Homo sapiens: one gene and its partner. The protein of the gene in region 1 interacts with the protein of each later gene in a pairwise test. Each region holds a gene or a part of one and is shown in the gene's direction. Other genes may lie near its edges.

Region 1 (3,500 bases):
CATGATGAGAATCATTCATCTCCTAGTGCAGAGGTAGAGCGAAGAGGATCTCTTCACGTGTGGTTATGCTTTGGAGTACTCTGGGGGGATCCTCAGTCATTCCATAAGATGACAGGCATTTTCACATTGAGTTATTTTCAGCTTTTCTGGGTTCTGCCTACTGTATACTATCTGGAAATCTGTAGCATCTTCTCGATTGTGTCTGTGTGGCCAGAGAAGAACATGAAGTAGCATATTTCTCCAGGGGTCAAGGCTTGTCTTTGCAGCCAGTCTGATAATTTGGAGGTTGGAGTGGGGAAGAAGCATTCCAGGCTTTGTTCTCCAGGCTAGCGGCATAAATTCACTGGACAGCTGCTATTCTCTTTTTTTGGTAATAAGGTCCCTGCTTCAACTATGAGAGTTGATAACTTATCTTTATGAAATAACTTAAAACAAATCCTTCTCAGAACAGTGACTTAGGAATCAAAACTCAGATTAGTAGGATCGGGCTATAATAGGCTCATTCTTCATGGTAAAATAGGACCAGTGAGCTATACCACTCTCTGGGTGAAAGGCCAGCATGTTGCCTGTCCCTTTTTGCCTAACTTGGTAGAAGTGGGGCAAGAAATCTTCCTATTTCTTCTGTGGCCTTCTCCTGTTGGGGAGGAATCTTGTGTAAGAAGCCCAAGGACAAACTGACCACAAGCTCCCTGGAGGTAGTTGACCTCACACTTGCTACAGCAGCTCAGTGACAGTATTAGGGACCCAGGCTTGTTCCATCCTTCCACTCTGCCATTCTTGGTGTGTTGAGTTTTTCTCCTAATGCCCCAGGTGTCAAGATGACTGTCAAGCTCACAAAGAGGCAGGAGGCAGTGGGGTTGCCAGGGTAGAGAGAGTCCTTCTCAACTTGCTGTGCTTGGTTTTGAATCGGGAAACAAAAATCCCAGAAATTCCCTAGCCAACTTCTCATCTTTTTTTTTTTTTTTTTTTTCCGGCTCAAAGGAAACTAGGAAAAAATGAGCATTTAGTAAAGAGTGTTGGAATAGCCATGACTAGGTTAGATCAGTCTCTATTCATCCCCCAGGATCAGGGCACTTTGCGATCCTGAACAAAATTGGGCTTTTTACTCTATCAAGGAAGAAGTGGGAGAATGGATAGAGGGTAGGCATGAATTGTACTGCCACTAATTAACTCTAAGGGTATTCCATGTCTGTGTCCACTTTTGGGAAAGTGAAAATTACTGTTTAGGTTAGATTTCTCTAAGATAAACTTTTGTACACAGTTTTTCAATATGATAATTAAATGCAAAGCTTATTTTTTCTTAGAATCTAGTTTCATACATTGTTTAGGAGACAGGCATTTCTTATACATAGATGTTTTAATGTTTTCTTTTTTCTTTTTTTGCCCCAGCTTAATTTTCTAAGGTACTGTATTTTAAATAAATTTGAACATAACATAGTAATGTGTCTGTTGGAGATGTCTTATTATTTAATGATAAGGTTGTATATGATTCCATGTAGTTGTATGCAAATCTGTTCAAGTCTTTGTGTAATTTTTCAGAACATGAATGAAGCCTCTTCTCTGCTTAGTGCCACGTGTAACACATTCATCACAACGCTTGAGGAATGTGTGAAGATAGCCAATGCCAAGTTTAAACCTGAGATGTTTCAACTGCACCATCCGGATCCCTTAGTTTCTCCTGTGTCACCTTCTCCTGTTCAAATGGTTTGAACTTCTTGTTTTGGTTTTTTCCCTCAGTAGTAATGTTGCATGTGGTTTTCGTTTCATTTTGGTATTTATTTTTAAGGGTGGAAGCAGGCAGTTGGGGGGCGGGGAACAGCTAACAAGTTGAATTTTTTTGTTTGTACTGTTTCATATTCGAGCTTCTTAGCTGATGAGCTGAGCACTTGTGCTAGTGTCCTCATTCCCTTCTCCTTGGAGGGGCTGTGCATGGCCTGCCCACAGGCTGCTTCATCCATTTTCCCCAGTGTCTAGGAAAATATTACAAAGTGCTGTGACAAAGAAAAAGTTGGGGAGCTCTATTCTGCTTGGTAAGAATTACACAATGGAATGAGATTTTAGTCACAATGGGGTACAATTACGTATATCTTTAAAGGAGTTAGAAGGAATTTGAAACATATTCCGGTGGGAACGGTATTCTCTACTAAGCATTTGGATCTGAACCCTCAGAGTAGCTGATCTTCAGTTTCTTCATGTGTAAAAATACAGTGTATATCAGAGAGTCACTGCAAACGATCTGACCTGCTTACTGTTAGGTGCTCAGTGTTAGTTTCTTACTTCCTTATTGCTCAGAACAAGTCCTCTTTTTGCCAGGGGTGGCAGATTCGTTGTCCTTTCTGAGCTAATAAATTTGCTCTAGCATGCTGTTAGAAATTTGTAGGTGAGATAAGCTTTAATGAGACTTCAAGTTTATTGCATCAAAGTGTTTTTAGGAGTCCATTTATAGGAGTAAGAATGCCACCTTGTTGCTGTTTCAGCAATTACCTGAAGATCTATTTGTTAGGAGAATAGGGTCTAACTTCTTCCTAGGTTCTCTTACCTATCCCAGCAAATTTAGTTATGAGATTTAGTAAAGATTATTGCCTAGATTTATTTAGAGAATTGTTTTCTAATCAGTATTTGATGGGCTAATAGTTTCCTCTGAGGCAAGCGTACCATGAAAATGAGTTTTATGGCCAGATTAATTTGGGAATTGCTAGGTTAACTTAAATGATATGAATTGGGTTTGATGGGACTTGTCACAGCCTTTTTACTTATTTATTTATTTATTTTTTTAGAGACAGGGTCTCACTCTGTTACCCAGGCTGGAGTGCAGTGACACCATCATAACTCACTGCAGCCTCAAACTCCCAAGTTCCAGCCTCCTGAGTAGCTGGGACTACAGGTGCACACCACGGTGCCTGGCTATGTTTTTTAATTTATTATTTGTAGAGATGGGGGGGGTCTCATTTTGTTGCCCAAGCTGGTCTCAAACTCCTGGCTTCAAGCTAAGTTTTTAAATTTATTTTTTGTAGAGATGGAGTCTCATTTTGTTGCCCAGGCTGGTCTCAAACTCCTAGCTTCAAGCAGTCCTCCTGCTTCAGCCTCCCAAAGTGTTGGGATTACAGGCATAAGCCACCATGCCCAGCCGTCACACCCTCTTTTATGCTGAAGTGTATTATGAATCTCTGAGAGGTGGAAGTGTAGTGTACAGTGTTGCTGAAATTTATTTGACAATTGAGCCCGTTATATATATACACAAATAAAATAAATATATATATAAATACTATATATGTATATATTTTCTTTTTTTGAAATGGAGTCTTGCTCTGTCGCCCAGGCTGGAGTGCAGTGGCGCAATCTCAGCTCACTGCAAGCTCCGCCTCCTGGGTTCATGCCATTCTCCTGCCTCAGCCTCCTGAGCAGATGGGACCACAGGCGCCTGCCACCATGCCCAGCTAATTTTTTGTATTTTTAGTAGAGACGGGGTTTCACCATGTTAGCCAGGATGGTCTCGATCT
Region 2 (3,500 bases), on another chromosome or scaffold:
GATCTCGGCTCACCGCAACCTCTGCCTCCTGGGTTCAAGCAATTCTCCTGCCTCAGCCTCCTGAGTAGCTCAGATTACAGGCATGCGCCACCATGCCTGGCTAATTTTGTATTTTTAGTAGAGACAGGGTTTCACCATGTTGGACAGGCTGGTCTTGAATTCCCGACCTCGGGTGATCCACCTGCCTCGGCCTCCCAAAGTGCTGGGATTACAGGCGTGAGCCACTGCGCCTGCCGTCTTTTCACTCTTGATAGTATCCTTTGATGCAAAAAAGTTTTAAATTTTGATGAAATCCAGTTTTTCAAGTTTTTTTCTTTTGTTACCATATCGAGTTTTTTCTTTTGGTGTCATATTCAAGAAATCATTGCCAAATCCAGTGTCATGAAGTATTTCCCCTTCCTTTTTCTCTAAGATTTTTATAGTTTTAGCTCTCACATTTAGGTCTTTGCTCCATTTTGAGTTAGTTTTTGTATATAGTGAAAACTATGTGATGTTTTTGCTTTTTTTTGCATGAGAATATTCATTTTTCTAGCACCATTTATTGAAGAGACTGTGCTTTCCCATTAAGTGGCCAGGCCGGTCTCAAACTCCTGACCTCAGATGATCCACCCGCCTTGACCTCCCAAAGCGTTGGGATTACAGGCATGGGCCACCGCCTGTCCTCAACAGTGGTTTTTGCAGAAATAGAGAAACACAGCCAGGCGTGGTGGCTAGTTCAACCTAGTTTGAATAATATCAACTTAGTTTCAATAATATACAAACGCTCTGCTCCTATATGTCTCTCCCTCCCACTTCATTATGTCTCTCCTGCTTCATTATCACAGATTACAGTTTTATACCTTGGGTGCCCATTACATCAATTCATAATTATTGTTTTATGCATTTGCCTTTTAAATCATACAGGATGAAAAATGAGGAATTATAAACCAAAAGTACAGTAATACAGGCTTTTATATTTATCTATGTAGTTACTTTTCCTACATAGTAGTAAAACATACATGTTTTTTGTTTTTTTCTTGTGGTTTTGAGTTACTTTCTGGTGTCCTTTCATTTTAGCCTGAAGGATCCCCTTTAGCCTTTGTTTGTTTCTTTTTTATTTTAAAGTCAGGGTCTCACTTTTTCAGCCAGGCTGGAGTGAGCACAGTGGTGCAATGATAGCTGCACTGCAGCCTCAACCTGCTGGGCTCAAGCGATCTTCCCACCTCAGCCCCTGAGTAGCTGGGACTACAGGTGTGTGCCACAGCACCTGGCTAATTTTTTTTTTTTTTTTCTAATTTTTTTGTAGAGACAGGGGTCTCGCTTTGTTGCCCAGGCTGGTCTCGAACTCCTGGCCTCAAGTGATCCTCTTGCCTCTGCCTCCCAATGTGTTGGGATTATAGGCATGAGCTGCTGTGCCCAGCCTATTGCCACTTTCAAGATTCATTCTTTGTGTTTGGGTTTTGACACTTTGGTTTTAATGTTTCTTGGTATGAATTTCTTTCAGTTTATCTTGCTAGGAGGTTTTTGAGCTTCCTGGATGTACATATGAATGTCTTTCATCAGATTTGGGATGTCTGCAGCCATTATTTCTTTTTCTTTCTTTTTTTTTTTTTGCATGTTATTTTTATTTTATTTTATTTTTTGAGATGGAGCTTTACTCTTGTTTCCCAGGCTGGAGTGCAGTGGCCCGATCTCGGCTCATTGCAGCCTCCGCCTCCCAGGTTCAAGTGATTCTCCTGCCTCAGTCTCCCAAGTAGCTGGGATTACAGGCACTTGCCACCCACACCTGGCTAATTTTTGTATTTTTTAGTAAAGATAGGGTTTCACCCTGTTGACCAGGCTGGTCTCGAACTCCTGACCTCAGGTGATCCACCCACCTTGGCCTCCCAAAGTGCTGGGATTACAGGTATGAGCCATTGTGCCTGGCCGCATTATTTCTTCAAATTTTTTTTCTATCCATTTCTTTCTTCTTTTTCTGGGACTCCTATGATGTGTATTTGGTATACTTGATGATGTCCCACAGGTCCCTCAAGGTTTTGTTCATTTTTTTTCCATTATTTTTTCTCTTTGCATTTTAGACTATGTAATTTTAATTACCTTATCCTCAAGTTCACTGATACTTTGCCTGCTCAAACCTGCTGTTGAACCCCTCTAGTGAATTTTAAAATTTATTGTACTTTTTAGCTCCAGAATTTCTGTTTGGTTCCCTTGTATAATTTCTGTCTCCAATGTGTTCACACATTGTTTTTCTGATTTCATTACTTCTTTGTCCATGGTTTCCTTTAGCTCATTGGACATATTTAGGACAATTGATTTGTGTCTTTACTAATAATTACAATGTCTGGGTTTCCTTAGGGGTGGTTTCTGTCAAATTATTTTTTGGTCAGGTGTGGTGGCTCATGCCTATAATCCAGTACTTTGGGAGGCCGAGGCGGGCAGATCACTTGAGTCCAGGAGTTCGAGACCAGCCTGGCCAACATGGTGAAACCCCAACTCTACTAAAAATACAAAAAAAGCTGGGTGTGGTGGCGTGCACCTGTAGTCCCAGAATCTCACTCTGTAGCCCAGGCTGGAGGGCAGTGGTGCAATCCAAAAAAAAAAAAAAAAAAAAAAAAAAAGCAAAAGTGTATTTGTCTGTTTTACATTTTATCCAACATTTCCTTTTTTTTTGAGACGGAGTCTTGCTCTGTTGCCAGGCTGGAGTGCAGTGGCGCGATCTTGGCTCACTGCAACCTCCACCTCCCAGGTTCAAGCGATTCTCCTGCCTCAGCCTCCTGAATAGCTGAGACTCCAGGTGTGTGCCACTGTACCTGGCTAATTTTTGTATTTTTAGTAGGGACAGGGTTTCACCATGTTGGCCAGGATGGTCTTGATCTCCTGACCTCGTGATCTGCCCACCTTGGCCTCCCAAAGTGCTGGGATTACAGGCATGAGCCACCGCACCCGGCCCATAAATCCACCATTTCTAAATGTTTATAGTAGAAGTAGTATTACATTATTGCAAAATAGTAAGTGAACTCATGGAAAATGGAGTTTATTTCCACTGAAGACTTCTATGCCAGGATAGTGGGGAGGAAGAGTTCACTCAGAGGTGCCAGTGATGGTCATCATGGTAGTTGTCACCACAGCTCAGTCTGTTCCTACAGTAGAGGAAATGACTTGGAATCTTTCCTATTAGGAATAGAGATGAAAGGGAAGCAGATAGACATGTTAGAACTAATCCCTTACCCATTCTGGGCTTAGAGAGCAAGATTTTTCAAAGGGGACAAAGAGTTAAACTGCTCATAGTAAACTGGGGAAAAGTCGTGTGTATCTGAAAGAAGCTAATCTATGGCCTTAGGTTTGAGACTCATCAGCTAGGAACCCTCCTAAAATCTTGTATCTATAGGAGCTAGGGTTTGTTGTCTGTTTTGTGTTTTTTTTGTTTTGTTTTGTTTTTTTTTGAGACGGAATCTCGCTCTGTCACTCAGGCTAGAGTGCAGTGGCGTGATCTCAGCTCACCGCAACCTCCGCCTCCCGGG

What was found.
Region 2: the proteins of PLEKHA3 (region 1) and MRPL45 interact in a two-hybrid assay, tested with the Homo sapiens proteins (one large-scale study listed by BioGRID).

What each region holds. Positions count from the first base shown.
Region 1 is NC_000002.12:178,493,957-178,497,456, forward strand, and holds part of PLEKHA3 (pleckstrin homology domain-containing family A member 3), read left to right. Parts: coding exon 1-33; intron 34-1,539; coding exon 1,540-1,704; intron 1,705-3,500. UniProt on the Homo sapiens protein: Plays a role in regulation of vesicular cargo transport from the trans-Golgi network (TGN) to the plasma membrane.
Region 2 is NC_000017.11:38,314,168-38,317,667, forward strand, and holds part of MRPL45 (large ribosomal subunit protein mL45), read left to right. Parts: intron 1-3,500.